4 linked regions of the Homo sapiens genome follow. The protein of the gene in region 4 purifies or fractionates together with the protein of the main gene of each other region. This does not show direct contact. Each region holds a gene or a part of one and is shown on either strand. Other genes may lie near its edges. The genes, in order: NHSL3, EPS8L1, CYFIP2 and ABI1.

Region 1 (7,574 bases), on a different chromosome or scaffold from region 4:
GCAGAGGACAAAGCTGGCTCCTGTGGAAGGCAGGTCTCCCAAGTGGAAAGGGGGATTGGTGTGTGTGAGGGCAACATCAGGGTGGTCCTGGGCTTTCCCCAAACAGAGGGGCAAAGTTGGAGGGCCCTTAGGATGCTGCCCCAAGCCTGGTTTTTGCTGGTTCCTCCCTGGGGACAGGCTGGAAGTTTCCTTCCTGGTCAGGTGACAGCCTGGCTCCAGGTTGAACTTTGGGCCCTATCCACAGGGACTGCTGGGAAGTCAGCTCCCTCCGCTGCCTGCAAGGCCAGCAAAGACATGTAGCTGAGCTGAGCAATCATTATTCCAGGGAGCCGGATCCAGCTACAGCTGAGACACAGGCTAGCTCTTCCTAGGCTAGCCCTCCCTGGGTGGCTCAGAAGCATGTCTGTCCTTTAGGCCAGGGGGCAAGAGGGAGAGCTGGGCCTGCTGGTCTGAAGGTGGTCCGGGCTGGGGATGAGAAGTGAGAGTCTCTGGGTGCTGGAGTCAGGAGCAGTGAAGGGAATATAACCCTGAACTCTCCTCATTTCCCTTCTTCCTCTCCCTACCTGCAAATCAGAGGATCCAATCTGTGGGTTGATTCCTGGAAATTCTAGTTTGAGGGGAATTTCCCTGAGGAATTATATGAGACACTGGCAGGGCTATCTTCAGAGGCATGCAAACTGTGTAGTTATGCATAGCCCATGCTCAGAAAGGCTCTGTGCTTGGTTGAATGTTTTGCTGTTGCCTCTTTTTTTTTGAGACAGAATCTTGCTCTGTCGCCCAGGCTGGAGTGCAGTGGCACAGTCTCGGCTCACTGCAACCTCCACCTCCCGGGTTCAAGCAATTCTCTGCCTCAGCCTCCCAGGTAGATGGGATTACAGGCACCCGCCACTATGCCCGGCTAATTTTTGTATTTTTTTTTTTTTTTGGGATGGAGTTTCGCTCTTGTTGCCCAGGCTGGAGGGCAATGGCACGATCTAGGCTCACTGCAACCTCTACCTCCCAGGTTCAAGCGATTCTCCTGCTCAGCCTCCAGAGTAGCTGGGACTACAGGCATGCGCCACTATGTCTGGCTAATTTTTGTATTTTTAGTAGAGACAGGGTTTCTCCATGTTGGTCAGGCTGGTCTCGAGCTCCCGACCTCAGGTGATCCGCCTGCCTCAGCCTCCCAAAGTGCGGGGATTACAGGTGTGAGCCACTGCACCTGGCCTAATTTTTGTATTTTTAGTTGAGACGGGGTTTTACCATGTTGGCCAGGGTGGTCTCGATCTCCTGACCTCATGATCCGCCCTCTTTGGCCTCCCAAAGTACTGGAATTACAGACGTGAGCCACCGTGCCCGGCATTTTTATTTTTGAGACGGAGTTTTGTTCTTATTTTCCAGCCTGGAGTGCAGTGGCACCATCTCGGCTCACTATAACCTCTGCCTTCTGGGTTCAAGCGTTTCTCCTGCCTCAGCCTCCCGAGCAGCTGGGACCACAGACAAGCACCACCATGCCTTGCTAGTTTTTTTGTATTTTTATTTATTTTATTGAGACGGAGTTTTACTCGTCGCCCAGGCTGGAGTGCAATGGCATGATCTCGGCTCACTGCAACCTCCACCTCCCGGGTTCAAGTGATTCTCCTGCCGCAGCTTCCTGAGTAGCTGGGATTATAGGCGCCTGCCAGCAAGCCTGGCTAATTTTTTTTTTTTTTTTTTTTGAGATGGAGTCTCACACTGTCACCGGGGCTGGAGTGCAATGGCGTGATCTTGGCTCACTGCAAACTCCGCCTCCTGGGTTCAAGTGATTCTCCTGCCTCAGCCTCTCGAGTATCTGGGATTACAGGCGCTTGCCACCTTGCCTGGCTAATTTTTGTATTTTTAGTAGAGACGGGGTTTCACTATGTTGGCCAGGCTGGTCTCAAACTCCTGACCTTGTGATCCACCTGCCTCGGCTTCCCAAAGTGCCAGGACTACAGGCGTGAGTCACCTTGCCCGGCCTGCTATTGCCTCTTGAAATTCTTTTTTTAAAAGACAAAGTCAGGCCAGGCACAGTGGCTCACGCCTGTAATCCCAGCACTTTGGGAGGCCGAGGCGCGTGGGTCACCTGAGGTCAGGAGTTCGAGACCAGCCTGACCAATATGGCGAAACCCCGTCTCTACTAAAAATACAAAAATTAGCCAGGCGTGGTGGCGGGCGCCTGTAGTCCCAGCTACTCAGGAGGCTGAGGCAGGAGAATCGCTTGAACCCGGGAGGTGGAGGTTACAGTGAACCGAGATTGTGCCACTGCACTCCAGCCTGGGCGACAGAGCAAGACTCAGTCTCAAACAAACAAACAAACAAACAACAACAACAACAAAAAGACAAGATTTCACTCTGTTTCGCAGGCTGCAGTTCAGTGGCGCGAACATGGCTCACTATAGCCTTGACCTCCTGGGCTCAAGGGATCCTCCCACCTCAGCCTCCCGAGTGAGTAGCTAGGACCACAGGCACTTGTCACCACACCTGGCTAATGAAAAACAATTTTTTTTTTGGAGAGATGAGCTCTTACCATGTTGCCCAAGGCTGGTCTCGAACTCCTAGGCTCAAGCAATCCTCCCACCTTGGCCTTCCAAAGTGTTGGGATTACAGACATGAGCCACTGTGGCAGGCCTTGAAATTCTTAATAAGTTTTTTTTTTTTTTTTTTTTTTTTTTTTTTGAGACAGAGTCTCGCTCTGTCACCCAGGCTGGAGTGCAATGGTGCAATTTTGGCTCACTGCAACCTCCGCCTACCGGGTTCAAGCAATTCGCCTGCCTTAGTCTCCCAAGTAGCTGGGACTACAGGCATGCACCACCACACCCAGCTAAGTTTTTGTATTTAGTAGAGACCGGGTTTCACCATGTTGGTCTGGCTGGTCTTAAACTCCTGACCTCAGGTGATCCATTTGCCTGGGCCTCCCAAAGTGCTGGGAATACAGGCCTGAGCCACCATGCCTGGCACCTGTAACACTTTTCTCTTGAAAACTGCATTCTCTACATTCCCTTTCCTCACCAACTAACAGAGGAAGAGGCTGGGTTCTTAGGAGTGCTAGGCTGGGCCAAGAGCACCCAGAGTACAGGGCTGGTTCCTGATCCAGAATGGGTGCTCTGGGATTGTGGGCTGGATCTGAATGAATGGTGGTTAGACAAGAAACTGAGGCCCAGCATGGACACTGGGTGGTCTGCCCCAGGGCCCCCAGGTGGGAGAGTGTCAATGATGTCCCAGGTTCACCACAGCTGAGCCCCTGGGGACATGCAGGGGGCTAAGGCAGGTTAGGGAGATCCCACTGCACTCTAGTAATCCTGCAATGTTATGGTGAGTGCTATCTACAGTGCGCCGGGGCTGACTGGGCTGGGTGGCCCAGACAAATGGGCCCCTGCCCTCGTGGAGACCAGGACCAAGAGAAAGCCGTGTGACCAGAGTCAGATTGGGTGATTCTGGCCACCCCACTGGTATGGACATCACAAGGCCCTTCTGGGGACTGACGGAGGAGGTTCAAGGGTGCTGAACCCACAGCTGGTCCCCAGCGCAATTTCTAGTCCTTAGGGTTTGAAGCCTTGGACCAGCCTGAGACAAAACCCAGATGACCATCTTGGCTCCTCTCCCGCTGACCACCTCTGTCCCCTTCTGGCCTCCATTTCCGTTGTCGTGGGATCAGATGATATAAAAGGGCTTGGTCAGCTGTAATAGACCCAGAGGCCTGTAGGCAATGAGTACAGCAATTTCAGGATTCTTAATGTTTCCTTTCCTACCAGCCTCCCAGTCACACCTCTCACCTGCCCAGAGTTCAACCCTAATTAGTGTTGAGCATCTCAGTGGGAACTCCTGGTCCAGGCAGGAGTGCCCTGGGGCCTCAAATCCTAGTCCAAGGGTAAACGGAGGAAGGGCTATCCTCATCTTGCCACCAAAGGGTGAGGCAGGAACACAGTGGACCTGGGCCCCCGCTGCACACCGAAGATGGTTGGAGCCTGGAAGGTGTGGTAAAGAGCGAGGAGGCGACCCCAGTCAGCAGATGGGAGGGAAATGCCCACTGCGGGTCACAGGTCTTGGACGTGTCTGAAGCCTCTATTCCTGGCGCAAGCGCCCCAACACTGTCGGGGCTTGGAAGGAATTCTCCAAATTCCCTTATTCCAGGAAAAAATATTCCAGAATCCCCTGTCTATTCCCAGCCCAAACTTGGGATACCAAGTCTCCTGGGGTCCAACCCCAGCCTCTCGCTCCTCCTTTCCTGCGCCCTTCCCCTTTCCGTCCCCACCCCATACCACCCTCTTCCGAACAGATCTCCCGCGGTGCCCCCTGCGGGACGGAACCTCAGTGCCGCCCCCTCCCGGGCGGCCCCACGACCCGCCCTCTCGGGCCCCAGCGGGGGGCACGACCCCGGGCTCCCGGGACCCCCTCCTCTCGGGACTGGACCTCGCCCTCCGCCGGGACCGGGGGAGGCGGGGAGGGGCCGCAGGCAGCGGCGCTCCCGCCCTGCGGCCGCTCCCGCCCCGCTCCTTCCCTCCCCGCCGGCCTGCGCCCCGCCCGCCGCTCGGCCGGCCCCTCCCGCGCCGCTCCCGCCGTCCGCTCTCCGCGCCCGCTCGGCCTCCGCCGCCCAAACTTTTCTCCGGGCGCGCGTCCCCGGCGGCCGCCCCCGGCATGGGCACCGCGCCGCAGGGGGCCTGACCCGCCGCCCGCTCCGCCCCCGCCTGCCATGGCGGCCCGCGCGCCCCCCGCCGCACCTGCGGCCGAGGAGCCGGGGAACCCGGGCGGCCCCCCGCGCAGGAAGAAGTCCCGCTCCGGCGCGTCCGGCCTCCGCCGCGCCTTCAGCTGGCTGCGGGGCAAGCGGCGCAAGAAGAAGGCGGCGGGGGCCGAGGGCGCCGAACCGGCCGCCCCCCGGGCCAAGAAGGCGGAGGACAAGGCCAAGAGGGCCAAGGGCAAAGGCCGAGGTAAGGCGGTCGGCACCTGGGCTGAGCGCGGGGGGGCGTCGAGGGTGCGGCCGAGGGGGCTCTGCCGGGGGTCCGCGCGCGGCGTGTTGGAGGGGGGTGACCCCCAGGAGCTGGTGCTGGAAAGCGAAGAGGCCAGGGCTGAGTCCGAACACTTCCACCCTGCGCTGCCTTCCGCAGTTTCCAGACCCAGTCCTGCCCCGCTGTGAGGGGAGGGGACCCCCGGCTGGGGCAGGGATCCCCTGGCAGAGCAGGAAGTGCTGGTAGCCCGACTCCAGGGCGGTGAGGCGATTCCCCCTCCCCCAGGCTCACCGAGGTTCTGCCCTCTGCTGAGTCAGGGGGTCAGAGACTTAACGCTGGCCTGTGGCCAATGGGAGAGACAGGTGGCCTTGGGTCTCTGGTGGGGACCCTCTGGGTCTGGAAGGTCAACCGCACTCACAAAGAGTTTCAGCTCCAGCTGGATCTGGATTTCCAGCCCCACAAAGGACCTCACATGGAGCACAGTGTGCCCTGCCTTAGCTTCTTAACAGTGCTGGCTTTTCCCACCTGGCCTCCCTCAACGCTCACCTGGGCCAGGCCACAAACATCACCTCCTGGGGTAGTGAGCTCACCAAGGTGAACCAACCCGCCCCTCCCTATCACTCCTTCTTCCAGCCCTGGAGAAACATGCCAGTGTCGGAAGTGTGCTTACAGATGGGGGAAACTGAGGCCCAAGCTCAGTGGAGAGGCTGTACCTGGGCTGGGGTGGGTACTTAAAATTCAACAGCTAATTCTCAGTCTTTCTGAATTTGAGTCCCTGGGCTCCTCCTCTGGCCTGGACGGGCAGCCTGAAAGGCGGGGAAGCCGACCTGGCCCATCCCTGCTGGGGTCATTTTCAGTTCCTTTCTTGGGCCTTCCCTCATTTTCCAGTTTCTGTCTTCCTTTTGATGGGGAGGGCTTGAGTCTTTGCAAGAGGGTGGAGCTCCCTTGGGGCTTGCTGTCCTGGGAAGTCCACCTTTCCTAGACTGCTGCTGCAGTGCTGGAGGTGAGGAAATGGCTGGGTGTGCGGGCCCATCCCATTCTGCCTGTGTTTACCCTCCCAGTGTCCTTTAACCACCTCTTCTGGGAGAGTTAGAAGGAACACTTTAGGGGTCAGGAAGAGGGTGGAAAGCCTCATGTGTGATTGTATCCGGCTTGATCTTCCTTTTGGATAAGGGCCCTGCTTCCCTGCGGCACAGCCACACATAGAAGTGAGGGTGCTGGGGCTGGGGTGACTGGGCCAAACCCTGAGGGAGGACTGGATTTGGGTGAGGGGTGTTTCCAAAGCCTCTGCAGTCCTAACAGGACATGGAGTCTGTCCCAGGGCTGCCCCACTGGGATTCAGTCTGAAGTCATCCCCGTCTCATTCAAGAGGGCATTGCAGCAGGATGTATTGTGGTCAGACTGTCAGGATTGGCAGGCAGAAGGCTAGTGGACTAGCAGTGTATACTCCAGGGCAATGGACCTTTTTCCTCTGGGAGACCAGCCTGGAAGGCAGGGGGCTGGAAAAGCTGAGCCTGTAGGTCACTGCTCCAACAGCCTGGGTTTGGGTTCATTGGGTCAGTGGCCAGGCCTCCCTCTTGCCTTGTGTTTGGTATCAGGTGGCTCTGGGCTTTCTGGGCAGCATGTCGGCCTGATTTGAGCCCACGTGCATGGGTAACACCTCCTTGCCCCTGGCTGTTGTTTCTCCAGGTCTGGAGGTGGCCCTGGGTATGACTGGAGGAAGTCCTGTTCCCTTTTACTCCAGCCTCCTATTATTGCAACTGTTTCCTTGTCACCTGCCTGGCCCAACTTCTTTTCTGTTTATTAAGAGAAATAAATCTGATCCCACTAATCTCCACTGGCAACGCTGGCCAGGAACGGGAAGCCTGCAGAAGGCTTAACTCTTTCAGGGAGAATGTTCAGAATGGAGATTGGGAGAGGTGGGGAGGAGGGATACACAGGAGATTCCTGGGAGGTCAGGGATCTTTGCTGGGGAAGTCATTATCTCCTCCATTCCAATCTCTGGCTCAAAGACCTATGAGAGGCAGGTCTTGATTCCTCTAATCTGACTCTCCTACTTTAAGATGGAAAAACTGAGCTTGTCATGGAGTTTTGAGCACCAGTCTTCCATGATTCCCTTGCTGACCTCACTACCCTGCACAAACTTAGAAGAAGAGAGGAAGTCTGACATTTATTGATTAGTCTGAATATGTCAAGATCTTACTTGCAGATGAAAAAATTGAGGCTCAGGGACAGTGAGTGACTGATTTGACCAAACGGATTTAAACTCAAATCACCTGCCTCAAAAATCGGGACTGTTTTCATGACTCTCCCAAGGACATAGAGCAGCAGGTAAGGCTTGAAGATCTTCTTGTTCAACTCACTTTACAGATGGGAAATGGCCCAGAGAGAGAAGTGAGGGAACTTGATAGAGTGGGGAGAGTATCAGAATCAGGCCAATGAGAGTTTAAATCCTGGCCCAGCTACTAGCAAGCCCCATGATGTAGGATGAGCAACTTCTCAGTGGGCTCCCTGATTCCACCACTGTCTTGTGGGGAAGAAAGGGGGAATCCTCTGGCTGGACATTGCCTTGATGGGCTGTGACCTTTCTGTCTCACCAAGATTCTCACAAGAGAGCATATGAAAATTATA
Region 2 (7,023 bases), on a different chromosome or scaffold from region 4:
TCAGAGGGAAGAGGGGCTGGGGGGCTGGACTCCTAGGTTTGAGGGAGGAGGGGCTGGGGGCCTGGACTCCTGGGTCTGATGGAGGAGGGGCTGGGCCTGGACTCCCAGGCTCATTCTCTTTCTCCCCTGGCAGAGCAGAGGAAGCGTTACTCCACAGTTGTTATGGCTGATGTATCCCAGTACCCAGTCAATGTGAGTCTGGGGTCTGTGTTCCCCCAGGACATCTTCTGGGGCAAAGGTGGCCTCAGGAGATAGGGCTTTTGAAAGCAGCTAGGCCCCCAAGCAGGAAGCATGTGGAAAGTCAGTTTGCCCATCCATAAAATGGACCTCCGTTGCCTCACCTCAGTCATGGATATGAAGCCAGGGGCCTCGGGTCCACTTAATCTGCCAGCCTTTCCTCCAGGCCAGCTGTTGTGCTGGACAGTGGGACCACGGAGGCAAATCAAGACACAGCCCTGCATGAGGAAGGGGTAGACAAGGTCCAGAGGAATCCACAGAGGCGCCTGGTGCTCTAATGGAGGTGGCAGGGGGCATGGCAGGAGACCCGAGGAGGCATTTAGAAGGAGAGAGCTATAATCCAGACTCCTTCCCTGCCCGCAAGGAGCCTCCAGTCTGTGAGAAGCCAGACTCAGGTGCTAGTCACTCTGATGAAAGGGAAACAAAGGGCACTGGGAGGAGGAGCTGATTTGTGGAACAGGTGATCAAGGAAGGCTTCCTGGAGGAGGTGTGGTTAGTCTCAGGCTGAAAGTCTGATTATTCTGGGGGATTCTGAGCCCACCTGGCATCATCTTGGGCCTCACTGCTTTCTCCATGGTCCGTACCAGCACCTGGTGACGTTCTGCCTGGGTGAGGACGATGGCGTGCATACCGTGGAGGATGCCTCCAGGAAGTTGGCCGTCATGGATAGCCAGGGCCGAGTCTGGGCACAGGAGATGCTGCTGCGAGTGTCTCCCGACCATGTCACGCTGCTCGACCCGGCCTCCAAGGTGCCGGGGGGCACGTGGGTGGGAGGAGTGTCTGGGGCAGGGACTTCAGGGGGTCTGGGTGTGAATCTTGGCTCCTGCACGTCCTTCCTCTGGGAACTCTGGCGAGGGACCCCAGCCCCCTTCTTGAGCCTTAATAGCCTCATCTATTAAACAGGGCTGTTATCCCTAACCCCCTAACCGCCTGAGGTTGCCCTGACCTGCTGGCCCACACTCCCGTCGCCATTTAGTAGTACCATCATTTCGGGGCCTCAGTTTACCCCGCCATCCCACCCGGCAGGAGGAGCTGGAGTCGTACCCACTGGGCGCCATCGTGCGCTGTGACGCGGTGATGCCACCCGGCAGGAGCCGCTCGTTGCTGCTGCTCGTGTGCCAGGAACCCGAGCGCGCGCAGCCCGACGTGCACTTCTTCCAGGGCCTGCGCCTCGGGGTGAGCAGATGGGCTGGCTCTGGGGGTGGAGCTGGAACTGGGCGGAGCCTGGAGCCGGGGCGGAAATGGGTGGGGCCTCTAGGTGGGGCGGGGCCTGGGGCTAAGGCGGGATCAGAGCAAGGAAGGGCAGGGGACCTGGGAAGGAAGTTCTGGAAGGCAGTGGGGTTTGAGATTGGACCCAGGGTCAAGATAGAACATGAAGGTGGGATGAGGACATGAACAGAACATGGCCAAGAAGGATCTGGGGGAGCAGCCAGGACGAGGTGGGGGCGAGGAACCACCCGGACTGGGTCTCCATGGGCGGGGTCGTGGCTTAGGGCAGGGACAGGTGTAGGGCGAGGGGTGAGTTCGGGGCGTGGACGTGCGTGGGTTCACAGGTGTGAACGGTAGCCGCACGTGGGCTGGGACTGAGCTGAAAAATCGGCCAGGGGCGAGGCCCGGGTAGGAAGTGGGTGCGGCGTGGGGAGGCGTGGCCTGACGGTGTGATTGGCAGGCGGAGCTGATCCGAGAGGACATCCAGGGGGCTCTGCACAATTACCGCTCGGGCCGCGGGGAGCGCAGGGCGGCGGCGCTCAGGTGAGAGGGAAGAAGTTGGCAGGGTCTCTGGGAAGCCGGTTTCCCCTCCTTGTGCCTCAGTCTACAACACCAGCCTGGAACAGAACAAGAGTTTTGCATGGAGTCAAGCACACCCTAGTCGAGTCTTGTCTGTACCTCCCAGACGAGCTGACCCCTTCTCCAGAACTCTGCTTCTTTTCTCTGTTCCCTGTCCAGGCCCTCAGTTTCACTCTAGAGAGGTGCTATCCCTCCGTATATCGGATTTCTCCCTACCTCGTTGAACTTGTTCACTCCCTTTGAGCCTTTTGAGCCTGTGTGTCTCGTTCTGCGCCCTGGATTTCCCCCTCCCTGGACCCCTCAGTGGACCCAGTCTTGGTGTCCCCGTCGCCCTCCGCAGGGCCACGCAGGAGGAGTTGCAGCGCGACCGCTCGCCCGCCGCTGAGACCCCGCCCCTGCAGCGCCGCCCGTCAGTCCGCGCAGTGATCAGCACCGTAGAGCGGGGCGCGGGCCGCGGACGACCCCAGGCGAAGCCCATTCCCGAGGCAGAGGAGGCGCAGAGGCCTGAGCCGGTGGGGACCTCGAGCAACGCTGACTCGGCCTCCCCGGACCTGGGTCCCCGGGGTCCTGACCTGGCGGTTCTGCAGGCGGAGCGGGAAGTGGTGAGCCGCTAAGGAAGGGGTCTGGGGGCAGGGCCAGGCGACTGGAGGCGGGGCTAGGGCGTGGAAGGGCGGGGCCGGCTGCGGGACGGGCGTTCTCTGGTCAGACTTCTGCGTTATGGAAGAGGGGCTGGGTCGGGGGCGGGGCTTGGTTGTGGGGCGTGGCCAGGTGTTTGGGGCGTGGCCTGATCTGGGGAAGTGTATAGGTGCTCAGGTTCAGGGCTTCGACGGGGATGGTTTTGGAACTCGGGAGCCCTGAGCGTCCCCCTCCTCTGTCCCCTAGGACATCCTGAACCACGTGTTCGACGACGTAGAGAGCTTTGTATCGAGGCTGCAGAAGTCGGCGGAGGCGGCCAGGGTGCTGGAGCACCGGGAACGCGGCCGCAGGAGCCGGCGCCGGGCGGCTGGGGGTAAGGGGCACCCTGGCGTGGGATCTGAACCCCCTCCCGATCTCTTCCAAATGTCCCCGCTCTCCCCAGGCTCTCCCCTCCCGCCACTTGCCAGGGCTGACCTCACCGCCATCTTAACCGGGTGTCCACCTCTCTCTGCCTGCCTGGTGCTGGCCCCGCGTCCCCATCGCCGCGCCCGTCTGCTCCCCTCAGAGGGCTTGCTGACGCTGCGGGCCAAGCCGCCCTCGGAGGCCGAGTACACCGACGTGCTGCAGAAGATCAAGTACGCCTTCAGCCTGCTGGTGAGGACGCGCCCGCCCCTGGGCCGGGGCGCGGGCACGACGAACCTGTCCCGTCCCCGCACCCACGCCAACCACCTCCCTCCCCACGCCCCAGGCCCGGCTGCGCGGCAACATCGCCGACCCCTCCTCTCCGGAGCTGTTGCACTTCCTTTTCGGGCCTCTGCAGATGGTGAGACCCGCCCCAGGCCCTCGGGCCCCCCTGCAGCGGGAGGAATCGGGTTCGACTTGTAGAAGGTGTGGCGGCACAGCCTGCCCCTCCTGCTCCCCTGACAGATTGTGAACACGTCGGGGGGGCCGGAGTTCGCGAGCAGTGTGCGGCGGCCGCATCTGACATCGGATGCCGTGGCGCTGCTGCGGGACAACGTCACTCCACGTGAAAACGAGCTCTGGACCTCGCTGGGGGACTCGTGGACCCGCCCCGGGTGAGGGGCGGGGCTGGGAGGCAGGGGGCATGGTGATTGGAGGAGCATAAGGCGCTGGGAGGTGGGTGGCATGATGATTGGAAAATAGGACTAGGAGAGTAGGGAGGGGTTAGAGGCGTGGCTTAGTTGTGTTGGGGCGGGGCTTAGGACAGATGCCAAGATTCAATTGGAGGAAAGGCCAGGAATTAACGTGAAGGAAAGATTTAAGACCACCAGACCAATCGGATTGAAAGAAAAGGGGGGCTTAAAGGAATAGAGGGGCTAGGGGCTACGGGGCAGGGGCGGGGCTACGCGAAGGGGCGGGGCTTCTGGAAGGTTTGGTCTATAACTTTGGTGATGGGACAGAGTCTGTGCACTGCGGGCTGGCAGTTCCGCAGGGAAAGGGTCAGAACCTGAAACCGACCTTACGGAAAACCTGATTTGGAATCAGGTGAGATTTAGAGGCTGGATAAGGCAATTTTTTTCCAGAGAGAGAGATGGATGGGGTCTCAATATTTTGCCCAGGCTGGTCTGGAACTCCTGGCCTCAAGCGATCCTCCCATCTTGGCCTCCCAAAATGCTGGGATTACAGGCGTGAGCCACCGTGCCCGGTCTAGAAATATAAATTGCTGTTGAGTTGGGCTTAGAGCTACCGGCAGGACTTGGTGAAAAGTGGCGGGGCTAGAATCGTTGGAATACAGCGAGCTTTAGGGGAAAACTTAGTGAAGTTAATGCAGGAACGAAGTTGGGGGCTGTATCAGGATCCCTGAGCTCTTGGCCCTGTCCCTGGCCGCAGGCTGGAGCTGTCCCCGGAGGAGGGACCCCCATACAGACCCGAGTTCTTCAGCGGCTGGGAGCCGCCGGTCACTGACCCGCAGAGCCGCGCCTGGGAGGACCCAGTTGAGAAACAGCTACAGCACGAGCGGAGGCGCCGGCAGGTGACCCAAGCGACACAGCAGGGCCGAGGCTGGGAAGTCCGGGGGCGCGGCCGGTCCGCCTGGCCCCGCCTGACCCGACTGTCTTACTTCCTACAGCAAAGCGCCCCCCAGGTCGCTGTCAATGGGTGAGTGTCCGCCCCAGGGCAGGGCAAGGGGGTCAAGGAGGGGTGCGTCCCGGGGGCTCCCGATGCTGACTCCGCCCCCTTTTTTTCTGTGTTTTTCCTTCTGTCTTCCTGGCTCTTCTCAGGTGGGTGAGATGGTGATGGGGCGGGCCGGGGCTGGGAGAGAGGGAGGAGCAGGGTGGGAGGGGGCGGGACCCAGACTTCTGGGGCTAAGGGAGTTGGGAATGGAGACCCGGATTCCTGGGCCTAAGGGAGGAAGGGGGCTGGGAGTGGGTAAAGTCTGAGAGGTTGGATCCCTGGATCCCCAAAAGGCTGGAAGAAGCCAGTTTGTTTTCCCAGGGCCTGGGAAGCACCATGCCTGGGCTCCCTAGGAGGACAGAGCCCTGGATATTGGAGGGGAGAGGCTGGGGAATTGGACCTTTGGGTTTTGAAGAAGAGCCCAAGTCTGGTGCTTGGGATCCTGGAGACCCAGAGGAGCAGGCTTGGGACTTCAAGGGCTTGGGGGCAAGTTTCTGGGAAAGTTAGGAAGTGGTAGTATCTCTGGGCCCCCGAGAGGGGTAAAGGCTGGACGATTAAACTCTTGGTTTTCCAGAGGCTCTAATGCAATTGTCTAAGTCGCTGCTGGGTGTCGGACTGGGTTAAAAGGTTTGAGGGTTAAAAGGATAAGATTGAAGCTTGAGACCTGGACTCCTAGGTCCCTGGGGGAGGAAAGAACATTCCAAGTCATGGTTCTACCAAGCAGTGGGGGCTCAGACTCTGGGTCCTGGGGGAGGGAAGGAGGTAGATGGACTAGAACTCTAGGGTCCTTGAGCAAATAGAGGGCAGACTGGAGGGAAGCAACGTGGGAGGAGACGAAAACAAAGCAGTGAGGCTGGAGGAGACAAAGGGGGGTCTGGGTGAGGGCCCGAGCAGAGGGTCTCAGCAGGGACAGCGTGCTGGGAGCTGCCGGCCCCACACAGGGGGTGCCGCGGCCCTGAAGACCCCCCCTCTCCCCTGCACAGGTAGGCCTGATCCAGGCTGAGGTCCCTCTTATTGGGGGTCAGAGCTGAAATCCCACCCCTGCCCCCAGCTGCCTGATATCGCAACCCTGGTCCCTGTTCACAGCTTCAAGTCACTTTCTCCGAGCCTCAAGTTCTTTTTTGCAGGGAAACTGGGAATAATGATTATCCGTTCCCGGAACAGTGAGAAGTCTGTGGTGTTGTAGGAACTAGCAGTTAAGGGCTTAAGGCTGTGACCAGGTTCAAGTTCAAGTCCAGCTGCCTGCAAACTAAGGCAGCATTATTCAGACCTGGGCTACCCTGGTCCCGGGCTGGCGATGCCACTCTCTTACTCTGTGACCTTTACATCCCTGTGCCTCAGCTTCCTCCTCTGTGAAAATGGAGGAGATCATAGGGTCTCTGGGGGAGGAAGAAACTGGGGGAGAGAGGGGAGTCCAAATTCATGGTTCTACCAACCGTTGTCATAAAGATCAAATTAACTAATATACGTAACAGAACAGTGCCCAGCACACAGTAAGTGGTACAGAAGTGGTAGCTATTGTTTTTTGAGACAGTCTCACTCTGTCATCAGGCTGGAGTGCAGTGGTGAGATCTCAGCTCACTGCAACTTCTGCCTGCCAGGTTCAAGCAATTCTCCTGCCTCAGCCTCCAGAATAGCTGGGACTACAGGCGCGTGCCACCACGCCCAGCTAATTTGGGTATTTTTTAGTAGAGACAGGGTTTCACCATGTTGGCCAGGATGGTCTTGATCTCTTGACCTCATGATCTGCCCGCCTCAGCCTCCCAAAGCGCTGGGATTACAGGCGTGAGCCACCGCGCCCGGCCTAGCTAGTGTTTTTATTATGCTTATGAGTTATGATATATAAAGCCCAGTGCCTATTAGATGCTCAATAAATGACAGCTGTTTCTAGCTGTGTGATGTGGGCAAGTCATTTTCTCGCTCTGAGCCTCATTCTCCTCTGTAAAATGGAATCGATGGTGGGATAGTACCCACTACATATGCCTACAGCACAATGCCAAGCAACGGAGGGAGCAAATATATTCAGTCTGTTATTCTTGTTTCAAATTTCTATTAACAGTATTAACCCGGCCCCTGCTGTGCCCCCAGCTTGGCTCTAACCCCAGCTCACACCAGCACCCTGCAGCCCAGAGCAATGGGGCTGGCTGCCTCCTTATCTCCAACCCTCCCGCTTCTCCTCAGTCACCGAGACTTGGAGCCAGAATCTGAGCCTCAGCTGGAGTCAGAGAC
Region 3 (7,023 bases), on a different chromosome or scaffold from region 4:
AGAGCTTTCCTGAATTTTGCTTTTTTGAGGGAAGTTGGTCTCTGTGACCAGTAAACCCAGCCCCAAGTTTACCGGCCGAAGGAAGGGAAAGTTAAGAGTGATAGGGCATGAAGTGAAAGGCTTCAGGTGGGAAGTGCTCTTAAGTAGCACAAGAGAGGTGGGTGGAACCTGAGTAGGTAGGGAGAAGTGGGAGGGAACAAGCCAAGCAGAAGCCCAGGGCCATTCTCACATTTCAACACGTAGAGTTAAGGAAGGGCCTCTTCCTCTGTGAGAATTCAGCATTTTGCAACCATCCAAAAATGTTGAGGGCATGCTTTGCTTCCAGGGCAGACAGAGCAGCACAGTGAGCATGGGACACAGGATCCCTGACTTGCTGTGTGCCCTTAAACCAGCCACTACCTCTCTGACGTTCAAAATTGAGCAATGGAAGGCAGCCTGCCCAACTGTTACCTGCCTGTCATCATGAAAGCCTGCGGATGAGGTAATGTCTGTAAATCCCAGTCTGAGAAAAAAAAGCCGTGGAAATAGAGAAGGAGCCTCCTGAATGTGTGACTCTTTTGGGTAAATGCCCTCCATTCCTTAAGAAACAATTTATTAATTATATATTGTGTGTCACTTTAAGAAGATGGATCTGTGGCCTCTCTGTACTGTTGAGCCAATGGGAAGCTTAAAGGCACTTTGTGATTCACAGATTCTGTCAAGGCCCCTGGATGGCCTTGTCTGTACAAAGACACTTCAGAATTCAGTCAGTGGGTATGGGACGCCTCCCAGGATGCAAAGAGCTTAGATATTGGCTTTCTAGCCATGGGCATTATGCTAAGGGCTGTGTGTGATGTACCTCAAAAAATAGCCATTTAAGCCATACTTGGGCCCTGGCAACAGAGGGTGCAAATTCTTGAAAGAAATTGTTTTGAGAAGGCAGAGCTTGAGTTCAGGCAGAATTTCTTGCAGGGATCATTCTGGTTGCGTGGCATTTTGATAGACTTTGGGCAACTCAGATACAGGCAGTGAGAGAGGGAAGTAAATAGGACCTTCTTGCGAGATGCCTGAGAAAGACCCAGTGATGACTTCATCAGTAGACCTTTTGATTCTGTTTGCGTCATTATTTGGTCATTGTAGAGCAATGGTTCTTAGGCTTTAATCTCTAGGTAAAACAGAGGTGTGTTTAGTCTGTCCATGTTCTCTGTTTTCTAAGTAAGGCAGGAGGTGAGGTCCTCTGCAGGAAATAAAGGTGATGGACTGGTTAGGAAACTTCAGGAGACTTCAGGGTTTGGAACAGTTGCCTATGTGGGTGGAATAAGAAATAAACTGGGGAAGAATGAGAGAATTGTCTAACTTCACTGAAGGCCTGGCTGAGATCAAAGAGAATTTGCAGGGCTGACCCTCAGAGAAGACATGCAGTAACTCTTAAGGAATATCCGAGAACTATTTTTGATTTGTGCTTTTAAAATATGATGCTTTAAGATTTGTTTTGGCAAGATATGAATGGCAAGATAAGAATTCAGAACTAGAGGTCAGCCCCCTATCTCCAAGTCTGTTATACTTCCATATGGGAAAGAGAAATGAGGACCTGCTTCTTAGGGTTTGAAGTGGAAACTATACGACAGAAGGATTTTCTAAAGAACTCTCCTCAGATTCTTATATTGACAAGGCAGCCTTGGATATGGGACCTTAGAGAAGCATGATATTTTAACTTTCTTGTTAATTTTTTTAAACCAGAAGTTAAGAATTTTGGTCATTGGCTCATGCAGTCAACAAATCATTCATGAAGTATTAATTAAGCAAGTAATTCCTGGTGTGTGCCTATCTCTGTGCTGGTTGCTATGGGTCAAACTCAGATAAGATGACTATCCTTGGCATTCTTAGCAATCCAAAGAATTAGTGAAATATAAAGCAGTTTGTCGTGCAGTTAAAAACTGTGGACTCTAGACTGTGAGTGCTAAGGGAGTGAGAGAAATAAAGGTCATTAAGGGGCTTGGCTGGTCAGACCTTTGTGGAAAAGGCATGTCTTCGTGTGGGCCATGATAGATCGGTAAGATTTGAGAAGGGAAGAAGACAGTCCATAAGGGAGTGGAGACAGTTTGAGCAAAGGCACAAAGGAAGAGTATCCTTGGACAGGTTTATTATGCCCTGTATACCTTGGCCACAGAGAATGGTCTGCATGATCCTTAACACATGTCTTTAAGGAAGCCCTTTGGATGGAATGTCTCAACTGTAGTCATGGTCATTTGCTTTAGTGTTGGGAGGGTCCTGAGAGAGGCCCAAATCCAGTGATTCTTAACTGGTTGCTGTTGTGGTTTTTTTAGTACACAAAATGGACAATGTTGACATGCTGAACACATCAGCCCCCACAGCCAACCCCCCAACTCTGCTCCATTCCTGCCACTCAAGGGAAGAGATGAACATGCAAGCAATAATATCACACAGAGATCTTGAACCCTCGCCTCACATACAATAAAATGTACCTTGTTTGCAAACCTCAGTGCTTAAGCTATTATTAGCACAAGTTACCCGCAATAACCTTCACAAGGCAGGTTTGGACATCATGGTTGAGAGAGAACCAAGGCTAACCTCCACATTTTACAGACAGAGAAATTTGCCCTTTTAGAGTGAGTGAAAATGTGATTTGGGGGCCTTTGTCTTCATACTGAGCCATGTTCGAGTTGTGGTTTCACATCGATGGAGCTGAGTTCCACGTGCTCCGATCTGGTGGCCAGACCTGAAGCCCTCCTCTTTGTTTCCGTAGCAGATGCATGGCTTCCCTTGTGAGTTTTAGCAGGTGCATCTGAGAGGCAGCTCCTCTCCCCACATACGCGTCATGTTGGTGTTCCTCATATGACAGCCCCAGGGCCCCAGCAGGAGCAAATCAGCAAGCCACCTTGGTGGCATGACTTCCCCTCCTGAGAGCATGAGGCCGTTCCCCTGAGCTGCTGGTAGCCTGGTTTGGTGTCACCACAAAGGCCACCTCAACCTTAACAACACAGGAAGCAGCTGGGCAAAATGGCAAACGAAGGGGAAAGTCCTTTAGCCCCCACCAAGATCTTTTTCTCTGTCTACTCAGTCTACTCATAAACAACGAGGAGGATAGGCCTTCTCCAGTGGCCCAAGTCGAGGCTGACTTGATTTCTCGGCTCTGACTGCAGGTCCCCTGTGTGGAGAGAAGCTGTAGGTGATAGGGCCTCTGGTCCCGGAGGACAGGAGCAGGGGACTGAAACAACAAAGACCACCTTGCCAGTCAGTGCTGGGTACCGGCCAGGTGTCTGAACTGCTAACAAGGAGACTTTGGGTGGTTGTCTTCTAAAGCAAATTATTAAATTTTGATCAAAACGATATATACAAATGTTTTAAAAAATCAAATAGTATTGAAAGCCTTATAATGAAAAACAACCATCCAGCACCCACCCTCCCCTAGAGGCTGCCACTTTTAACTCACTGTTTCTTCTAGTAGCTGCCTCCAGATCTCTAAATGATATGCTTACACTGCTGTTTCTCGATTTATCTATTCTGCACGTTGTCTATTTACTTCCTGCTGTGATGGATGGAGATTTCACTTTCTTACACCATCTCCCTCCCTCCCCTGCCCCCGTCTCTCAAGATAGGAAGAGCTCTATTTTAACCTAAATCAGGTTTAAAGTGTCTACATTATTAATATATATAAATGATGATCACAGACAGCCAAGTAAAGTCCTTTGATTATATTTCCTTTCTTAGAGGGCTTTTCATTTCGCTGCAGAATTTTTGTTGCAATACTTGTCTTTTTATTTATCTATTTATTTATTTTGAGATGGAGTTTCACTCTTGTTCCCCAAGCTGGAGTGCAGTGGCGTGATCTCAGCTCACTGCAACCTCTGCCTCCCAGGTTCAAGCGATTCTCCTGCCTCAGCCTCCCGAGTAGCTGGGATTACAGGCGTGTGCTATGACACCTGGGTAATTTTTTAATTTTAGTGGAAATGGGGTTTCACCATGTTGGTCAGGCTGGTCTTGAACTCCTGATCTCAGGTGATCCACCTGCCTCGGCCTCCCAAAGTGCTGGGATTACAGGCACGAGCCACTGTGCCTGGCCCTGTCCTTTTCTTTTAAAGCTCTGTGTCATATGAGTTATTCTATTGCAGTCCCTTGTCTTCTCAGGAAGTGCAGTGTTAACCCTAGCTCCACCCCTAACTAGCCCAGTGACCTTGCACAAGTCCCTTCTCTTTTCTGAGCCTTGGTTTCCTCATCAGTAGAAAGAGAGCTAGGCTCCCTTCTTGTTCTCATTCTAAACCTCAGAACCTATCACCCCACCCACCTCACAGGCAGTAATATTATTACTCCTCAGTTAATATTATCTGAGAAGTCTTTACTCCAGGGTGGGGCAGCCCCAGGACCTGACAGATGGCAGAGAAACCAAAACAGGCAGGGGCAGGGGGAGGGAACAAACAAGCTAGCTGGGCCTGCCCTGTATGGTCTAGTTCACCCCTGCAGTTTAGGGGGCTGCTCTGTGGGGTGGTATGGTTGTATCTATTACTCTTTTCCTCCCCTGCTATCCCCGTTGGTTTTTGCTCTCCACAGCCTCTGCTTGTAGGGGCATCATTTACAGTCCCCAAACTCCCCAAGCTCCTACTCTACCCCCAGCTCTCTTTGTACCCCTTCTGCTTATGTTACACTCAAAGTTTCCCAAAAAGTAGTTATAAAAATACTAACTTTTGGTAGCAGCTTTATTGAAATATAGTTTGCATACTGTACAATTCACTCATTTAAAAAATATAGTTCAGGGCAGGCATGGTGGCTCATGTCTGTAACCCCAGCACTTTGGGAGGTCAAGGTGGGTGGATCACCTGAGGTCAGGAGTTTGAGACCAGCCTGGCCAACATGGCAAAACCCTGTCTCTACTGAAAATACAAAAATTAGCCAGGCATGGTGGCAGGTGCCTGTAATTCCAGCTACTCGGGAGGCTGAGGCAGGAGAATCGTTTGAACCCGGCAGAGGTTGCAGTGAGTGAGATCATGCCATTGCACTCCAGCCTGGGGAACAAGAGTGAAACTCTGTGTAAAAAAAAAAAAAAAAAAAACCGTTCAGTGGTTTTTAATATATTCACAGAGTTGTACAACCCATAATCGTAGTCAGTTTTAGAGCATTTTAGCACCCCAAAAAGAAATCTCATGGCCTTTAGCACCACCACCTATTTCCCCCAACCCCACCCCTTGGCAACCATAGATTTGCCTATTCTGGGCATGTTTAATAAATGGAACAATACAATACGGGGTCTTTAATGATTCGCTTCTTTCACTTAGCATAATATTGTCAAAGTTTATTCATGTTGTATCAATATCAGTACTTAATTACTTTTTATGGCTGAAAAATACTCCATGTGGCTATACAATTTTTTATTTATCAGTTGATGCATATGTTAGTTCTGCTTTTTAGCTATTACAAATAATGGTGCCATGAACATCCATGTACAAGTTTTTGTGTGGACCTGTATTTTCATTTCTCTTGGGTGTATGCCTAGGAGTAGAATTGCTGGGTCAAATGGTAACTGTGTGTTTAAAAATTTGAGGAAATACCAATCGATTTTCCAAAGTTGCGGCACCATCTTACATTCCCATTAGCAACGGTATTCTCAGTTTCTCCACATCCTTGCCAACACTTGTTATTGTCTGTCCTTTTCATTATAGCCATCCTAGTGGGTGTGAAGTGGTATCGATTTGCATTTCCCTAATAACTAAGGTTATTAATCTTTCTGTGTGCTTATTGGCTATGTGTATATCTTTGGAGAAAAATCTGTTCCTTGCCTATTTTTAAAATCAGGTTCTCTTTATTAATGAGTTTTAAGAATTCATTTTTTAAATTTATTTTTATTTAAAAAAATTTTTTTGTAGAAACAGGGTATCACTCTGTTGCCCAGGCTGGTCTTGAACTCCTGGCTTAAGCGATTCTCCCATCAACCTCCCAAAGTACTAGGATTACAGGCATGAGCCACTGTGCCCAGCCAAGAATTATTTACATATTTTATATACTTAGCAAATACATGATTTGCAAATATTTTCTTCTATTCTGTGGACTTACTTTCTTGATGGCGTCCTTTGAAGCACAATTTTTTTTATTTTGATGTTTAGTTTATTTTTTATTTTGTTGCTTGTGTTTTTGTTGTTATTACATAATTCAAGGTCACAAAGATGTACTCTTATGAGTTTTATAGTTTTAGCTCTTACATAGATCTTTGATCCATTTTGAGTTAATTTATTATATATTACATTATTTATACCTCACACCATAAAACAAATTTTGCATGTGGGTATCCAGTTGTCCTAGAATCATTTGTTGAAAAGAATATTCTTTCTACATCTCTTGTCAATTGACCATAAATGTGAGGATTTATTTCTGGATTCTCAGTTCAATTCCATTAATTTAATCATTGTTCATTGTCTTCATGGTAACACCACACAATTTTGATTACTGTAGTTTTGAGTATGTTTTGAAATCAGGAAGTGTGAGTCTTCCATTTTTGTTCAGTTCCTCCCACCCCCAAGATTGTCTTGATTATCCTGAGTGAGTCCCTTGAATTTCCATATGAATTTTAGGATCAGCTTGTCAATTTCTGCAAAGAAACCAGATGAGATTTTCATAGAGATTATGTTGAATCTGTAGGTTAGTTTGGGCAGTATTGCCGTGTTAACAATATTAAGCCTTCCAACCTATGGACATGGGATATCTTTTTATTTATTTAGGTCTTTAATATTTTCAACAAGGTTTTATTGCTTTCAGAGTGTATGTTTTGTACTTATTTTGTTAAGTTTATTTCTAAGTATTGTATTATTTTTGATGCTACTATAAATAGAACTGTTTTCTCCATTTTATTTTCATATTGTGCATTGCTGGTATATAGAGATACTACTGATTTTTATATGCTGATATTGTATCCTACAAACTTGCTGAACTTGTTTATGACTTTCAATAGTTTTTAGTGGATTTTTCTTGGATTTTCTATAACAAGACTATGTTATCTGCAAATAGGAATAGTTTTACTTTTTCCTTTCTAATCTA
Region 4 (6,886 bases):
GATTTAGTATGTTTGTATTATGAACTTCTCCCCTGCAGGAATTATGTAATTCCTGTATCAATTTGTATGAAAACATTTTCATATGTCTTTTGAACTTTTAAAGAAATTTATTGATCAGAAATTTAAGTTAAGCATTAATTGGGTTCCAGCTTTGAATTCTTTAAATTTTAGGAGCATTTTTACCTGATATTATACTAGTTCATTGAACAGAGCTCTAGCCTGACATTTTCCCATTTCCCTGTTTACACCTTTGACTGTGTAAAGCACACACATATATACTGACCACGACCATCTAGAGTTTGAGGTATGAGTCATTTTTATTGTTTTGTTTACTGTAAGTTCCTTTTTGTTTGTTTTTTTTAATTACATCTTCAACACTTTATGTTTAAATCTTAATTGTTGATGTATTCTTAGAAAATCGAATCTTTAGGATCTAGGCTTTCCCTCATCCCGTGCTTATGTTTTACTAGCAATAATGCAAAATTTTAGCTTGCTTTCTACATTAAAAAACTAATTATGAATATAAACCTTTTTAAAAATACTCAATTAGATTTTCTACTGGTTGGGGATTCTTTTTCCATTTTTTCAACTTGTAAAATGTAAATAACAGAGTAGAAAATCTGCACACAGAAGCAGACCTAATACTACCAACTTTACTTTTCTCTTCATCAAAACAAACAATAATCAACAAAGAAACAAAAATCTGTCCACAGGAGACTGAATTTTTAGGGAACCAAAGCTGTTTCAAGCCAAAATCAGGGGCATGAATGAGCAGAGTGAAGAGTGATCAAACCATTAACGTAATGTTACTCATATCATTACTGCAGTCCAAATGACAAAAGTGACATAGATTTATTTTAGATTGTTAACATTTGTCCCGATCTGAACCTTGGAATAAGGAAACTACTCCTATAATCCTTATAAAAAGAGACATTGTCTCCTAACACCCTGCATTCATTAATTTGTAGTACTTCCAGATACCCTTATTTTTAGCTCATTTTGTTATTTTTAAATGATTCTTGAGTAGCATAAACTTTAACACACCAAGCTTTTATTTCTAATCATTGCATGTTTTATTATAGTGCATGCTGTACTTAAGTTAGAGCTTTCTTAAATTCTGTTAACTTATAAGTTTCCATCTAGACTTATTTTTGATTCAAATCAATCATATGAATCTTTTTAGTTGCTGATAGTCCAACTCCACCGCCACCACCTCCACCAGATGACATTCCCATGTTTGATGACTCTCCACCTCCCCCACCACCACCACCAGTGGATTATGAAGATGAGGAGGCTGCAGTAGTTCAGTATAATGATCCATATGCAGATGGGGATCCTGCTTGGGCCCCCAAGAATTATATTGAGAAAGGTAAGGTACAGTCATTGAGTTGATGTGAAGGAAAATAACCTAATTGTAGAAATTTAGAACTATAAAGAACATCTAATCCAATGTTTCTCAGCCTTTTAAACTGCCTTACCAACCAAGATGATTTACTTAAACCTTACTTCCTAAGTTTTGTATTATTCCCAGTGTACAGGGGGATTCTTTCTTTGTATTTTAAATAAAAGTTGCAGTGTTAGATTTGCTTTCAAACTACATATGCGTTCAGCTGAAGATTAACTTGCTGGACGGCATTTTATAGATGAAACAGCTAAGGCACAAAAATGGAGTTATATGTAATTAGTAAAGATTTTAAAAGTTCTGTCAAGCTCTATTGATTACCTTTCATATCTAAATATGGACGGTCCCTGATTTATGATGGTTCACTTTAGGATCTTTTCAACTTTATGATGGTACAAAAATGATATGCATTCAGTATGCTTCTCAACTTATGATGGAGCTTTGTCTGGATAAACCTGTTATAAGTAAAAAAAATACAAGTTGAAAATGTACTTTCAATTTACAATATTTTCCACTAAACAGTGGGTTTATTGGGACATAACCCCATTGTATGTAAGTGGAGGAGCATCGGTCTTTAAAAATATATTAGTACTATCATGAGAAAAGCCTCAATTAAGGTTTCAATTAGGTGATTTTATAAAACACAAGAGAAATTATCAGGATTGTATTTCATGAAATTATGAACTACTCTAAAGTCTAATTTACCTATAGTACCCGATATTCACTATAATTATCTATTAAGAAATATAGGTGGGGAAGAAACAAATCCTGTTTCTAGTTTTTATTTTTTCATCCAGTTCTGTGCTATTTTAAAATCTGTATTTCTTTTTGCAGAAGTGGGAATCAATTAAAAATAAAATCTGTATTTCTATAGAGTTCTGAAAAATGCTTGTGATTTAGTTGAACACTTTTGGTTGCCTTTGAAATATATTTCCTTCTATTGACTTTACTGGGTTAACGGACTTTAAGCTAGTAGATGTAGCTCTTGAGACCAGCAGCATTCTTTCCTGCCCAAGTTTTGGATATGTGGCAAAAGTAAATTTGTTTTCCTTTTATATTTTTTTATTTTTTGAGATGGAGTCTTGCTCTGTCTCCCAGGCTGGAGTGCAGTGGTGCAATCTCGGCTCACTGCAACTTCCGCCTCCCAGGTTCCAGCAATTCTCCTGCCTCAGCCTCTTAAGTAGCTGGGATTACAGGTGCCCGCCACCACGCCCAGCTAACTTTTGTATTTTTAGTAGAGATGGGGTTTTGCCATGTTGGCCAGGCTGGTCTTGAACTCCTGACCTCAAGTGATCCGCCCATCTCAGCCTCCCTGTGCTGGGATTACCGGCATGAGCCGAGCGTGGCCTTATATTTTTAAACAGTAAGTAATTTACATATTGTTAAGAAAGTCTTGAATATTCTACTTGAGATTCCCATATACCTTCAAATAGAGAGCTGTTGTTACTTACGAGGATGATAAACTTGAGTGACCTTGAATTGTGTTTTTACCCATATTTTCTTACTTGGTGAAGCCAATTAACTGTGAAAATGGGACCATATTTATATAAGTTGACAAATTTGGAATGATATATTGGGTAATATATTTGATAGTAGAGGAGGATTAAAAAGTATATTCCCAAGAACTAGGGGTGAGCACACTTTGTTTGGTATAAAGCCAGATAGTAAATATTTTAAACTTTGCTGGCTATACAGTCTCTGTCACAACTACTCAGTCCTGCTATTGTAGCGTAAAAGCAGACATAGACAATACATGAGTAAGTAGATGTGGCCATATTGCAATAAACCTTTATTTACAAAAATTGCGTGGTTTGGATTTGTCCATGGGCCATTTTATACATTTTGGATTACTTTCTCTTTCCATAGCAGTTTGCAAAGGAAGTGAATATAGGCTAAGCATCCCTATCTGAAAGTCCCAAATTCAAAATGCTCCAAAATCCAAAATGAGTTCCAACATGATGCCGCAAGTGGAAAATTCCACACCTGACCTCACGTGATGGGTCACAATCAAAATGCAGGCACATGACACAGTTTATTCAGTGTTCCCAAGGGAAAAATAAAATTACCTTCAGACTATGTGTATAAGGTGTATGTGAAACAAAAATGAGTTTTGTGTTTAGACTTGGGTCCCATCTCCAAGATGTCTCATTACGCATATGTAAAATTCCAAAATCTGAAAATCCCAAATCCAAAGCAGTTCTGATCCCAGGCATTTCAGATAAGGGTTACTCAACCTGTATCTTGAACTGAAAAAATTACAGACACCACAGAATTGCAAAGTTCTCTAAGTATTAATTAAAATCCTTTAAAGTAAGTAAATATTCTTTAAAAAAAAATCTGGGGACAGTCCCTTAAATTAGCATGGGTCCTTGAATGAGTAGGATGTGATTTACCTTCCAGTAACTGTGTTTTTTCAAATTAGATAGCTTGGATTGTTACCTGGTTTACTGAATGGCTATGCAGCTTTCTTTGCCTGATAATTATTTTGAAAAGCCGGTGCTTTGCATATGATAGGCACTTGGTATTTGAATGAATTGAAACATCTAATAAATTCTAAAATTCAGAGAGCTTTCTTAAAGTGATTGACAGAACCTATTGATGTATTCAGTCTAATCAGATTGTCATTTGGCTCTAAGATTAAGCCAATGATTTAAGTACATGGTTGGCCACTGACCTACTTATATTGATAGATACAAAAATTAAGAAATCTTCATAAAAATAGTTTTGCTGTGCTATATATTTAATTGTCTTTGTCTTAAAATTCAAGTAAATTTTGGATATAGTGCACTCATGTGATATTTCAACTGTTTTTTCCATAGTTGTTGCAATATATGATTATACAAAAGACAAGGATGATGAGCTGTCATTTATGGAGGGTGCAATCATTTATGTTATAAAGAAGAATGATGATGGCTGGTATGAAGGAGTCTGCAATCGAGTGACTGGTCTGTTCCCTGGGAACTATGTTGAATCAATCATGCACTATACTGATTAATTTTTTTTTTTCTTTTGAAGTAGATTCTTATTACTCAGTCATACTGTGGGACTATTATGGTTAACAGAACTGTCTTAATATGTTTTAAAATGTGCCCATATTTTCAGAACATGCTGTTTTATTGGTAAATTGAATGTCTACCTGTAAGCATAAATCTTTGAGGCAGTTTATGTATTGCTGAATAGCAATTTATACAAGAAGCTGTCCATAACTGATTATGCTTATGTACTTACTTACACATTTTTAACTTTATGACCAGCCTAAATATTCTGGGGGAAGTGGGGTATAATATTTAACGAATCATGATTCAGATTGTACCATTACATGTTTCAGTGCAGCATGGTTACTAACGCTATGTCAGACTAATATTAAAATCAGAAAATTTAAATGCTGGTGCTGGTCAGACTTTTTTTGTTAGATTCTCTCATTTAAAAAAAATACTGTTTGTTTAAAGCATGCATAAAAATTTATGTATTGAAATATACTTAAAAATTCAAGATGCTTCCCATTTGTGTAATATTTACCTGGAGGACTCGTACTTAGGTGTCTTAACGTGAATTGAGTCTCCAAGGTCTCCATGTGAAACAAGCAAAAAGAGAATTATCTGTAATGTTGTAATTTGTACCTAAGTTTTTTAATGAGTGAAATTTGCATTATAAACTTTTTCCATTCATAAATACATAAGTGAACCAAAGGTTTTTGTCCTTTCCTTCACTGATTTGCTTTAAAAAAAATAAAAGATAATGATTTATTGCAGAATTATGATTCTATTTTCTCAATATGTTAACTTGGAAAAAAATTTTAGCCTTATCTTAATCTGTCCCAACAGCAATGTGACGGATTTTTGCAGATTCAAAATCTGCAATGGTTATTTACAAGTCAATCTACTGAATTCCTTTTTTAAATAATCTTTTGAAACTAAGAAAATGTGTCAAATTGTGTGCATTCATTCTGTAGGTAAAATTCTTAAGGATTGCCATGTCAGTCCTTCAGTTGTACAGTGAACTGTTGTACACTGGTTCAATGAAAGGAAGTTAAAAGTACCTTTTACATATTGTAAAAGTGGATACAGTTGATTTGTGAGTAGGCACTCTTTAATCCATTACCTGGCACTAGCAACATTAGAATTTTAAAATAAAATAATTGGGAAAGAAGGTGGGTCATGTATTAATCAGTGAACAGAGATTTACCTAACCAACAGACTTGGATTGTCTTTTGACATAATCAAAATGCAACACATGCACTTTGTGTGTCTCCTCTTAATTGAAGGGAGGGCTGAGGGATGTTTTCTCTTCTTGTCTTGTGTATAATTCTCTATTGCTTAGGATATTAAAGTAGAGCACTCAAGTGTGGGTTTCTGTGTTATTGAGGATTTGTTTGGAATTCAAATTACAGTTATGTACTGGATGCTACAGACTTATAACAGCATAGTGAATGGTAAGACTAGTGCAAAACAGTTATTTCTGAAAATTAAAGACCATTATTGCTACCAAATCAATGTGACTATTTCATATGCATTTTGCCTTTGTTAATTTTAAACAAACAAAGTATCATTAGTGATCAGCTAGCTACCTTCTACTTTCCATTTTTCAAGTGGATTGTTCTCTTAATTTGTATATAACCTGTTGTCTAAATTTTATGTACAGTCTTTTATAATAAACCATTCTCCTATATGAAATTTTGGATACTGTTAAAATATAACTCATGTGGACTTCAATGCAGACTTCACATTTTTCTGACCTTTACTCCTACGGTAAATCAAGACAAACCATTTGAATTTTAACATTGGTTATTTATTTGTGTAATGGCCTTACATGTGGATATTAACAGTGTAAACAATACCACATATAACCATCAAGATACCTTGATTATAATTTATAGGACTAGAATGACAGATTCAGGTGGTTTATTAATTACATTTAAAAAGTTTTCTGAAAAAACTTTTGCAATAAAAAAAAATAAATTGCCCATCAATAAGTTTGATATCTTTTAAAATGATTTTTGGTTATCTGCACATGAAGCAAACAAAGTGTATTCCACAAAATTCTTTAGGCACAGTCTGGTAAGATAGCTGCCAGAAAGAACAGAAAGAGTTGTCATTTATCTCTTGTGAGTACAATTTCTGAAAGCTGAATGAGGGCATCTCTTTCTGGGGATGGTCGAAGTTTACTGATCTCTCTTATTGCTTCATGGCAGTACTGCTGGGCGAGGTAGGTTGTTTGTTGCACACCATCACTCTATAAGATACAGAACAAAACAGAACAGATGCCTGTCACTGACTGAATCAGCGTTTTAACTTCCTGCTATAATAAATGAACACATAGTTTTGAGATCAGATGAGCTGAGGATTACAGTTAACAGTCAAACTACATCTCTAATGTTCTTTTCCCGACTCATAGTGCTAACTTCCTTTAGGCCTTTTTCTCATATTGAAGCAAATTTTTATTCTATTAGCATGCAAAGCAACTAGCTCATCAATATTACATAGT

What was found.
Region 1: the proteins of ABI1 (region 4) and NHSL3 purify together in Homo sapiens (affinity purification with mass spectrometry; 3 studies listed by BioGRID and IntAct, with this or other methods). This does not show direct contact.
Region 2: the proteins of ABI1 (region 4) and EPS8L1 purify together in Homo sapiens (co-immunoprecipitation; 4 studies listed by BioGRID and IntAct, with this or other methods). This does not show direct contact.
Region 3: the proteins of ABI1 (region 4) and CYFIP2 purify together in Homo sapiens (co-immunoprecipitation; 4 studies listed by BioGRID and IntAct, with this or other methods). This does not show direct contact.

Annotation. Positions count from the first base shown.
Region 1 is NC_000001.11:32,737,265-32,744,838, forward strand, and holds the start of NHSL3 (NHS-like protein 3), read left to right. Parts: upstream 1-4,565; 5' UTR 4,566-4,690; coding exon 4,691-4,925; intron 4,926-7,574. UniProt on the Homo sapiens protein: Able to directly activate the TNF-NFkappaB signaling pathway.
Region 2 is NC_000019.10:55,078,866-55,085,888, forward strand, and holds part of EPS8L1 (epidermal growth factor receptor kinase substrate 8-like protein 1), read left to right. Parts: intron 1-133; coding exon 134-192; intron 193-824; coding exon 825-986; intron 987-1,263; coding exon 1,264-1,413; intron 1,414-1,515; exon of another isoform or gene 1,516-1,628; coding exon of another isoform or gene 1,629-1,676; intron 1,677-1,906; coding exon 1,907-1,989; intron 1,990-2,365; coding exon 2,366-2,627; intron 2,628-2,907; coding exon 2,908-3,034; intron 3,035-3,226; coding exon 3,227-3,315; intron 3,316-3,409; coding exon 3,410-3,484; intron 3,485-3,588; coding exon 3,589-3,737; intron 3,738-4,512; coding exon 4,513-4,654; coding exon of another isoform or gene 4,655-4,750; coding exon 4,751-4,779; intron 4,780-4,901; coding exon of another isoform or gene 4,902-4,917; exon of another isoform or gene 4,918-5,377; intron 5,378-6,853; coding exon of another isoform or gene 6,854-6,893; exon of another isoform or gene 6,894-6,975; coding exon 6,976-7,023. UniProt on the Homo sapiens protein: Stimulates guanine exchange activity of SOS1. May play a role in membrane ruffling and remodeling of the actin cytoskeleton.
Region 3 is NC_000005.10:157,269,103-157,276,125, forward strand, and holds part of CYFIP2 (cytoplasmic FMR1-interacting protein 2), read left to right. Parts: intron 1-221; exon of another isoform or gene 222-481; intron 482-7,023. UniProt on the Homo sapiens protein: Involved in T-cell adhesion and p53/TP53-dependent induction of apoptosis. Does not bind RNA. As component of the WAVE1 complex, required for BDNF-NTRK2 endocytic trafficking and signaling from early endosomes.
Region 4 is NC_000010.11:26,746,081-26,752,966, reverse strand, and holds the end of ABI1 (abl interactor 1), read left to right. Parts: intron 1-1,183; coding exon 1,184-1,369; intron 1,370-4,221; coding exon 4,222-4,397; 3' UTR 4,398-6,371; downstream 6,372-6,886. Other genes in the region: all trans-polyprenyl-diphosphate synthase PDSS1, read right to left, coding at 6,494-6,634. UniProt on the Homo sapiens protein: May act in negative regulation of cell growth and transformation by interacting with nonreceptor tyrosine kinases ABL1 and/or ABL2. May play a role in regulation of EGF-induced Erk pathway activation. Involved in cytoskeletal reorganization and EGFR signaling.